Linked DNA regions of Homo sapiens. The protein of the gene in region 1 interacts with the protein of each later gene in a pairwise test. Each region holds a gene or a part of one and is shown on either strand. Other genes may lie near its edges.

Region 1 (3,656 bases):
TGTCTCATGTCCCTGTTTTCCCTTTTCACTCCTTTTCATTTCCCTTTCTTTTCTCTCTCTCTCTTTTTTTTTCTTTTGAGACAGAGTCTCACTCTGTCGCCTTAAGCCAGAACGCAGTGGCACAGTCACAGCTCACAGCAGCCTCTACCTCCAGGGCTCAAACAATCCTCCTACCTCAGCCCCTGAGTAGCTGGGACTACAGACATGTGTGCCACACCTGCCTGGCTAATTCTTCCTATTTTTCACAGAGACAGCATCTCACTTTGTTGCCCAGGCTGATCTCAAACTCCTGGGCTCAAGTGATCCTCCCACCTTGGCCTCCCAAAGTGCTGGGATTATAGACATGGGCCACCATGCCTGGCCAGTTTCCCTTTCTTTAACTTCTGTCAAATCTAAGCTGCAAACAGAATGAGACAGAAACAGCATTTGGAGAGCACTTTCAAGATAAAATGGTTCTAATGATGTTGTCTCGTGAGTCCTGGGTATAAGTTGAGTCTTCCAGGATTACGTTAGCCCCAGAAAAGGCTTATTGTGCTTATTGGGACCATGCCCACCTCACATAAACATCTTTCAGACTTTTATAAACATCTGGGGCCTCTTCAGAAAGACTGCTAAAGCTTCGATCTTTCGTTCCTTCTCAGAAAAGGAATCTCTTTGCGTTCTTTGACATGGCCTACCAAGGCTTTGCCAGTGGTGATGGTGATAAGGATGCCTGGGCTGTGCGCCACTTCATCGAACAGGGCATTAATGTTTGCCTCTGCCAATCATATGCCAAGAACATGGGCTTATATGGTAAGCTACAGCATCCAGCATGACACATGCTCTCATGCTGGGAGAGAATGCCACGAGGGCATAGAGCTTGTGGGTGTGTGTGTGTGTGTGTGTGTGTGTGTGTCCATCCATGTCCATGTCCCTCCCTACCCTAAGATGAAAGACCAGTATCGTAGATTTTACTGATTTTCTTAGCCATATATTCTTCGGTGTCCTTAAGTTTTTCCAGCAAAGGAAACTGATTACTGCTTCTCTAAACAAAAAGTAACAAATCCGTGAGCCAAGAAGATAGATACAATAAAAAATACCTTTGAATACTCTGAGTACTCAAAACTTCCTTGTGCCTCAGTTCACCACTCTGGTTGTTGAAAGCTTTTTATTTATAATAAAGTTATTTTGGGGTCCTTTGGATGGAAACAGATAATACGTAGCAAATACACTCATGATTTGCTTTAGCACATTAGATAGTAGAAGTAGAAGACGAGATCCATTTTTGTCTTTCAGGTGAGCGTGTAGGAGCCTTCACTATGGTCTGCAAAGATGCGGATGAAGCCAAAAGGGTAGAGTCACAGTTGAAGATCTTGATCCGTCCCATGTATTCCAACCCTCCCCTCAATGGGGCCCGGATTGCTGCTGCCATTCTGAACACCCCAGATTTGCGAAAACAATGGTAAAGGTTTATGCCACTCCCCAGCCACCTACCTGTTCCCACCACTGCTCCTTCAAAGTTAGTTTTTAATTGACCTCTAGTGATATACAGTACCCCATAGATTCCATATGTGGAAGGCAGGGAAGGAAGCAAAAAATGTGCATTCCTTTTTTAAAAAATTAAGGCCGGGCACAGTGGCTCACGCCTGTAATCGCAGCACTTTGGGAGGCCGAGGCAGGTGGATCACCTGAGGTCGGGAGTTCGAGACCAGCCTGACCAACATGGAGAAACCCCGTCTCTACTGAAAATACAAAATTAGCCGGATGTGGTGGTGCATGCCTGTAATCCCAGCTACTCGGGAGGATGAGGCAGGAGAATTACTTGAACCTGGGAGGCGAAGGCTGCAGTGAGCCGAGATTGCGCCATTGCACTCCAGCCTGGGCAACAAGAGCAAAACTCCGTCTCAATCTATATATATAGATAGATAGATAGATTGGTTGAGACAGGGTCTTGCTCTGTCACCCAGTCTGGAGTGCAGTGTTGCAATCCTAACTCACTGTAACTTTGTACTCCTGGCCTCAAGCAGTCCTCCAGCCTCAGCCTCCCGAGTATTTGTTAGCACTTTGAACCAAGTTAATTGATATTTCTCTGTAAGAGGCAGTCATAATTTTTAAATGGTAGTTCCTTTTATTCCGTCATCTCCGTGTTAAGTAGAACCTGCTTTCCCCTAAAATCAGTTTCAAATTAAGTACCTTACATAGGAAAACTTCCTTAAAAACATCATATTTTTGTTTGTGTCCTAATAATTGCTAGCATTGAATCCGTATTTTTGCATATGTTTGTATTTTATTGTAGAGACAGGGTCTTGCTGTCTTGCCCAGGCTGGTCTCCTCAAACTCCTGGGCTCAAATGATCCTCCCACCACAGACTCCCTAAGTGCTGGGATTGCAGGTGTGAGCCACTGCACTCAGCTTGTTTTTTATTATCTGTACTATCTGACTCTCAACATCTGTTCTCTGAATTAGTGTTACTAAATTTTTTTGACCACAATCCACATAAGAAATATATTTAAGTCTGGGCACAGTGGCTCACACCTGTAATCCCAACACTTTGGGAGGCTGAGGTGGAAAGATCGTTTGAGACAAGCCTGGGCAACATACTGAAACCCCATCTATAAAATTTTAAAAATATATATTTTACATCATGACCTTGAACATATTATATACTTATATGTGTATATAACTGAAACTGTCTTCCAGACTCAATACTAAAGGCTTCATGTGCTTTACTCGAGTTTTTTGTTTTGTTTTGTTTTTTGTTTTTTTTTAAACAGTCTTGCTGTGTCACCCAGGCTAGAGTGCAGTGGCACAATCACTGCAACCTCCACCTCCTAGGCTCTAGCAATTCTCGTGCCTCAGCCTCCCGAGTAGCTGGGATCACAGGTGTGCACAACGAGACCCAGCTAATTTTTTTTTTTTTTTTTGAGACGGAGTCTCGCTCTGTCGCCCAGGCTGGAGTGCAGTGGCGGGATCTCGGCTCACTGCAAGCTCCGCCTCCCGGGTTCACGCCATTCTCCTGCCTCAGCCTCCCAAGTACCTGGGACTACAGGCGCCCGCCACTACGCCCGGCTAATTTTTTGTATTTTTAGTAGAGACGGGGTTTCGCCATGTTGGCCAGGCTGTTCTCAAACTCCTGGCATCAAGTGAACCACCTGCCTCGGCCTCCCAAAGTGCTAGGATTACAGGCGTGAGCCACCAAGCCCAGCCTCCACTCCAATATTTTCTAAATGCCAACTGCATCTTACTAAGTTGAATTTAACATACTAAGCCAGGTAAGGTGGCTCACACCTATAATCCCAGCATGCATTTTGGGAGGCCAAGGCAGGTGGATCCCTTGAACCCAGGAGTTGGAGACCAGCCTGGGCAACATAGCAAGACTGTGTCTCTATTAAAATAAAAGAAAATAAAAAAATAAAAAATAAAAAAATTAACCTACCAATGGGTCATGACACATAATTTAGAAAACACTGCTGTAGAAAGGGGTTGGCAAACTGTTCTGAGAGTCAATCCAGTTTGCCCCCTATTCTTGTAAATAAAGTTTTATTGGAACACAGCTGTACCCATTTGTTTATGAATTTTGTATAGCTACTTCTTTGCTGCCATGGCCGAGTGAGCAGTTGTAGAAGGCAGAGACCATATGGCCTATAAAGCCTAAAATAATTACTGTTTGGCCATTT
Region 2 (3,345 bases), on another chromosome or scaffold:
GTCTTTATTGGTAAAGATTGTATAGGCGGATGCAGTGATCTAGTCTCTTTGCAACAGAGTGGGGAACTGCTGACGCGGCTAAAGCAGATTGGAGCTCTGCAGTAACCACAGGTGAGTGGCAGGTGAGGTGCTGGGCCAGGAACATGGGAGACCGTGGAATTCTTCTGTCGTGGTTTGTTATACTGTATGACAGCATTCTGGTTGGGGGAAGAAATGATTTGGGGTGAGTTGAGGAATGGTGATGTCAATCACTTATGAATTTCACACTTTACAAAGAGATCGTGTCAATGAGAGAAATCCTTTCACTCAAGCTTCATTTAAGAAATATTTATTAAGCATGTGCCAGACACATGAGAATATAATGATGCATAAAATGATAACCTGGAACTTATATTTTAGAGAGGTAGACAGATCAAAAACAAGCAAATCCTGAAATAGAATAGAATAATGTGACAGAATATGTCATGGGGTGGGGAGAAAATTGAGCTAACATGGTAAGGGAGGGCCTTTCTCAGGAAGGGTTGAGCTGAGACCTGGTTAACAAGGGGACTGCTATGCAGAGATGAAGCAGAAGAGCTTTTCAGGCAGAGGGAATAGCAAGTGCAAAGGCTCTGAGGTGGCAACAGGTAAGGGATGTTCGTGGAACAGAAAGAAAGCAGGAATAGAGTGAATGAAGTGCAGTGAAAAGGAAGAATAGCGAGAAAGGTGGGCAGGGGCCAGAGCACCCAGGCCATGGTAAACAATTTGGATTTATTCAAAACGCAATGTGAAACACAGGTCATTTTGGCTTTACCTGTGTTCACTTGGCAAATCAACTCTATTTAATTGGCTTCCCAAAAGCCAAAACAAAGTTTTCTAAAATCAGTAACCTAAAGGAGATCTTTGGCTCTGTGGAAAACCACAGGGCGATGAACATTTCAGAAGGGAACCGTGATGGTTTTGGAGTCTGAGCTCCTCCCTCCCCCAGTTCCCCAGCACAGCTAGCGCTAGCTAGCTCCCAAGCAGGCCAATTCAGAGACCTGTACCCAGAGAGATGTAAATGCTGCTTTAGTTGAGGGAGAAATGAATGGTTCTTTAACCAAAATGTTCTTGGAGGGGTATCTATTGCCTGCTAATTAATAACTCATTTCTTGGGCAATGAGTATACATTATTTGTGATGGTTACTCAGCATAGCAACAGAAGGGGGAAAAAGGTCTGAAAAAATACCACTGATTTCTCTGAAATGAAATAGTCAATGCTATAAATCTTCTAATCAGAATTCTACGATATCATCACAGCAGGTGCACCCTATGTCTGTCTGAGTTCACTTCCTGGCCTTACCACTGGTACTAAAAGCACTCAAACCCAATTAATGGTTTCCTATTCTGGGACATGTTTAGCAATTTAGGCTTAGATTAAGAATGAGAGAAGATGGGAAATGTTATTTCTCCAACTGCTTCTATTTTGGTGTGGGCATTAGAGTCCCCCATATTCAGAAAGTCTCCTTATTTGCATTTGGCCTTTTCCTTCAGTGTTCTATGCTGTCAGTATTTTACTGGCAGCTGCATCTCAAGGCCATCTGCAACAGAGTGTGTTTAAATGGCAGGTGTAAGTGTTCTGGTAATGAGAGAAAGGAAGGATTTTGCCTTACAAGGAGATCCCTTCTTTCTTTCCTGGCAGAACAGGCCCCATGCTGACGTCCCTCCTCAAGAGCTGGATGGCATTGCAAATGATGACAGCACTTCTGGTGGATGAATTTGGGGGCACAAACAGCTTTTTTCCTCTTTTGGCTCAGTATTTAAAAGTGGACCAACTTGCTCTTAATCACAGGGCCAAGAAGGTTGACGGGCCATCTTGGTTTTCTTCTGGATGTGCTCTTTGGTTTTCAGAAGACTGTGACAAGTTCTGGCCCAGGATTCGCTCACTGACCCTCAATTGTCCTCTTTGGCATGCGTTTCTTACTGTTCTCCATGTGTCGGCATGTCTCTACCTCTAAGCCAGTGTTTTTCAACTATGTTTATCCAGACTCCTTCTCCACAATGATGAATCCACAGTTGGTTATCTGCTACTGCCCATTAGCTAAAATCATTTTGCTGCTTGACTTTATGGAGTTTGTATTATGAAATCAGTGGGTATTTTGAATGTGTTCTTTCTAACTACATGCATCTCTCCACTCAACTCCACCCCATCCCATCCCACCTTGAAAATCACTGCTCTGAACCAGTGTTCTCCACCTTGTCCTCCACAGATCTCATAGGAAATGTTCAACAATTCTGTGAAAGGTCACAGGACCCAATTGGAGAAATCATATGAAAAGCATAGTTGGTCTTGGTGTCATATGGATCAGAGGCACAAGTGCAGAGGCTGTGGTCATGCGGAACACTCTGTTATTTAAGATGGCTATCCAGATAATCCTGAACACTGTGTATTTATTTTATTTAGACTACCAGCAAAGATTAAAGCATGAAATGTAAAACATCTGATAAAACTTACAGCCCCCTACACCAAGAGTGTATCTGTGAAAGAGCTCCTACACTTTGAAAACTTAAGAATCCCTTATCATGAAGTTTGCCTGTTCTAGAATTGTAAGATTGTTAATTTCCTTCAATCTCTAGTGACAACACTTAATTTCTTTTCTAATAAAAAAAACCTATAGATGATTCAGTGATTTTTGTCCAATTCATTTGCATGTTCTCAAGACATTAAGGAATGTTATGCGAAATACACTAACTTAAAACTGTGTTTATATTTGGCCCTGCCATTATAAATAAAGACACGTGCTGCTGTCACTCACTGAGTACAAATGGCTGATATAATTTTGAAATTTCATATTGAAATAAATGCCAGCCCTGGCTTACTGAATAATGCTTAGGGTTTAATAACAGTCTTTTTCATTTCATATTCCTTTTTGCCATTTCCCACTTAAGGCCCTTGTACTTCTCGCTTCTTTCTTTTGTGGGCCCTAACCACTCCCTTCAACCAGGATTGCTATGATAATTGTTCAGTTTACACCAGGATTGCTATGGATAATTGTTCAGTTTACACACTGCACAATATGAAAGCCCTCCCACCGGAGGTTATAGTATCTGATCCACTCTGGACCACTTGCCTGCACTTTCACACTTCTTTGTCCATGTTCATTGTGTTTCTTTCTCCTGAGATGCCTTTTCTTCTTTGTTTTACTTTGAAACTCCTCCTCGTTCAAGGCCTGATTTACAGATCATTTCCCCTATATTTTCTCTCTCCTCTCATGGCCTTTTGACTGAAAAATCATCGTTCCCTCTTCTGGAATTCAAAAACACTGTGCATGTAGATACTCTACAGCTCTTATCAGGCTATGTTGTAGTTAATCATCTGTATTGGTC
Region 3 (3,656 bases), on another chromosome or scaffold:
TCATAGCTTTATTCAGTAACGGAGTAGAATTTTTAATACAGAGAAAATGAAGTACCTGAGAATGATAAATAAGTTTACCACCCAGTTAACCACTGTTACTACTTCATAAAAAAAGTACTACATGTCAGTAAATTCAAGAAGAAATGCACAATATGAAAAATGAAAACCTTCCCCTCTTTACCTTCCGTAATAATTCCTCTCCCAGAATGATTTTTAATGCCTCTAAAAGGTAAAAGTATCTTCTCTGGAGCCTGACTCCTGAGTTTGAGTTCCATTTCTATTCCTTACTTCCTGTGACATTTAATTTTTGGCAAGATGCTTTTTCATTGGTAAAATAGGGATAAGAATATCTATAATGAGGCCGGGCAAGGTGGCTCACGCCTGTAATCCCAGCACTTGGGGAGGCCGAGGCGGGTAGGTCACGAGGTCAGGCGTTCAAGACCATCCTGGCTAACACGGTGAAACCCCGTCTCTACTAAAAATACAAAAGAATTAGCTGGGCGTGGTAGCGGGCGCCTGTAGTCCCAGCTACTTGGGAGGCTGAGGCAGTAGAGTGGCATGAACCTGGGAGGCGGAGCTTGCAGTGAGCCGAGATAGCGCCACGCACTCCAGCCTGGGCAACAGTGCAAGACTCTGTCTAAAAAAAAAAAAAATCTATAATGCTGTTGTGTAGATTAAGTGTGTTTATATGTGAAAAGCATCTAAAGCAGTCCTTAGCATATTTAAGTGTTACGTATCTGCTGGCTAGTATACCAGTGGGTATATATGCTTGAAAATTTTATACAGTCATTTACACACTGGTCTGTATTCAACTTCTGTGTACCCATAAAATTTTTTTTAAGTGATATAGTAGGTGCGTATATTTATGGGGTACATGAGATATTTTGATACATGCATACAATGCAAAATAATCACAGCAGGGTAGATAGGATATCCATTGTCTTCAAGCATTTATCATTTGTTATAAACATTCTAGTTATGCTCTTTTAGTTGGTATAAAATGTGCAATAAATTATTGTTGACTATAATCATCCTATTGTGCTATCAAATACTAGATCCTATTCACTCTATGTTTTTGTACTAATTAAGCATCCCCGCCCCTCCCCTGCCACCACACACCCCACAGCTCTTCCCAGCCTCTCGTAACCATCTCTATTTTCTACCTCCATGAGTTCAGTTGTTTCAATTTTTAGCTTATCATGGAGCTCTTTTGAATATAAATCTACCTTATTCTTTTATATCAGTGTGTATAGTCTATTAATTTTTTAGACAGATCCTCTATTGGCATTTAGTTTGTTTTCAGTTTTTTACTCTTCCAAACAGTGTTACAATGGAGATATTTGCATAGATATATTCGCGTACTTGTGGGAATAATTTCTAAAAGATAAGTCAAAAGGTATATGTGTCTTTAATTTTGGTATATCTTGCTGTAATGCCTTAGTAGCTAGCTGTTTTCCCCACTATAATCCTGTCTGAAATTGTTATCCCTTCCTGTGGCTTTCAGTTTGGTACCTACCAAATTTTTTGCCAAACTGCATTTAGAAAGGAAATGCTAATCCTCACTGGTAGATCACAGGATTACTAGTTCACAAAGGCAGGTGAGATTGCAGCCTTCCCTCAAAGGGAACCACATTTGACCTGCAATTTAGCCTTAGCAAGGAGTTACATAACAATGATGCTATTGCCTCTGGTTGTCAAGCCTTGACCTGTCTCTGAAGTTGTTTTGTAATCAAGGTTTTAATGGCAAATATAGGGAAAGAACAATTATGAATTTTGAAAACGTTAGTCTGGGTTTATGAGAAACTCCCTTTTATGCTAAAATGAGAGCACAGCTAAAATGGCTGTGTCATCTGACCAGAGGCCTAGAAATCTAGAGTTGCTCTAGTAACTGTAAAGGAGTCATTTCTTCCTGCCTCTATGTTTATGAAACATAGAGTTTTAAGATCTAAGGACTTTTTGAGGCTTATTTGGTGTCTTGAATAATTTTATATTTCTTCTGGCTATATGTTGGCATATATGTATCCCATTTTGCAAGTAAATATTTACATTTCAGCATAAATGTGTCATTACTGATTTTAAACTGATTTTGAAAGATATTTTGTATGTGCAATTATGGTATAACGAAATCCAGTAGGAAGTCATAAGTTCTAGAATTGTGATAATAGTCTACTGTTAAACCAATCCTGTTTTTTTATGTTTTCAGTGGTTAACATTTAGGCATATTGGATATGAGGCATTTTGATGAGCAAATATGTATCTCATGCCCCTGCCTCATAGACAGTATACTCTAGACAATGTGTGGTCATATTACTCACTAATTAATACGTGAAGTTAATTGCTGCCTCCTTTTCTTTCTTTTTTTTTTTTTTGAGACGGAGTCTCGCTCTGTCGCCCAGGCTGGAGTGCAGTGGCGGGATCTCGGCTCACTGCAAGCTCCGCCTCCCGGGTTCACGCCATTCTCCTGCCTCAGCCTCCCAAGTAGCTGGGACTACAGGCGCCCGCCACTACGCCCGGCTAATTTTTTGTATTTTTAGTAGAGACGGGGTTTCAGCGTTTTAGCCGGGATGGTCTCGATCTCCTGACCTCGTGATCCGCCCGCCTCGGCCTCACAAAGTGCTGGGATTACAGGCGTGAGCCACCGCGCCCGGCCCTCCTTTTCTTGACTCAGATTCACACTCCACAGTCTTTCCAGGAGCTAGATGGATGGTATTATCCAGCCATTGTCCTACAAGCCTAAAGCCAGGTGGAAAACCACCATCCTCACAGCAGGTGTCAAGTATTTTGGTTTAGAAACTCTTTCCAGATGATGTTCATCCTCATAGTAAAGAAAGTAATTATGACAAGGAGTGATGTTGATAACATAAAAAAAATAACAAAAAATCTGCTAAGCCATCTTTACTGTTTTTACAGGATAGACCAAAGCCCAGCAGAATTACTAATATAAGCATTCAAACTGCTTACAGAGGGTTTCAAGCATGATAATTTGTGAAGTCAACATGTATAGTAAACAAAACATATTTTAAGTGTGTTCATTATGGAGCTAATTGATAAGATGTCATTAAAAATAATAATGCTCATGGCATTTGTGTTAGGAACTATCAGCAGCAGTCCATCTTTAAATTTAAAAAGAACAGAGGCTATTCTCAAACTGAGAGCTTACCTTTTTGTTTTATTCTGTTTCTGTTGGAGCTGTGCTCTGTACTTTATACATGTTATTTCAATAATTCTTGTCCACAGAGTTTTCTAGGCAGCAACTCTCTGTGCACAATTTCAGCTAGAAACGCCATGACCTTCCCAGTAAATTTGAGACAGAAGCAAATTTGTAAGGAATCCTAACTGGGCAAAACTTGATATGCATAAATGCCTAATATGTATCTACATAGATATATCTATAGATAAATCTTCAACATTTACTCTGACTTTTATAGGATGATACAAGTTGTGGATTAAATTTTTTTTTTTTTTTTTTGAGACGGAGTCTCGCTTTGTCACCCAGCCTGGAGTGCAGTGGCGCGACCTTGGCTCACTGCAAGCTCCACCTCCCGGGTTCACGCCATTCTCCTGCCTCAGCTTCCCGAATAGCTGGGACTACAGGCGCCCGCCACTATGCCCGGCTAATTTTTTGTATTTTCAGTACAGACAGGGTTTCACCGCGT

Evidence for each region.
Region 2: the proteins of GOT2 (region 1) and GLRX interact in a two-hybrid assay, tested with the Homo sapiens proteins (one large-scale study listed by BioGRID and IntAct).
Region 3: the proteins of GOT2 (region 1) and THOC7 interact in a two-hybrid assay, tested with the Homo sapiens proteins (one large-scale study listed by BioGRID and IntAct).

Annotation. Positions count from the first base shown.
Region 1 is NC_000016.10:58,713,799-58,717,454, reverse strand, and holds part of GOT2 (aspartate aminotransferase, mitochondrial isoform 1 precursor), read left to right. Parts: intron 1-641; coding exon 642-792; intron 793-1,275; coding exon 1,276-1,441; intron 1,442-3,656. UniProt on the Homo sapiens protein: Catalyzes the irreversible transamination of the L-tryptophan metabolite L-kynurenine to form kynurenic acid (KA). As a member of the malate-aspartate shuttle, it has a key role in the intracellular NAD(H) redox balance.
Region 2 is NC_000005.10:95,813,273-95,816,617, reverse strand, and holds the end of GLRX (glutaredoxin-1), read left to right. Parts: coding exon 1-105; 3' UTR 106-111; exon of another isoform or gene 112-122; intron 123-1,660; exon of another isoform or gene 1,661-2,228; 3' UTR 2,229-2,769; downstream 2,770-3,345. UniProt on the Homo sapiens protein: Has a glutathione-disulfide oxidoreductase activity in the presence of NADPH and glutathione reductase. Reduces low molecular weight disulfides and proteins.
Region 3 is NC_000003.12:63,853,721-63,857,376, reverse strand, and holds part of THOC7 (THO complex subunit 7), read left to right. Parts: intron 1-3,656. UniProt on the Homo sapiens protein: Component of the THO subcomplex of the TREX complex which is thought to couple mRNA transcription, processing and nuclear export, and which specifically associates with spliced mRNA and not with unspliced pre-mRNA.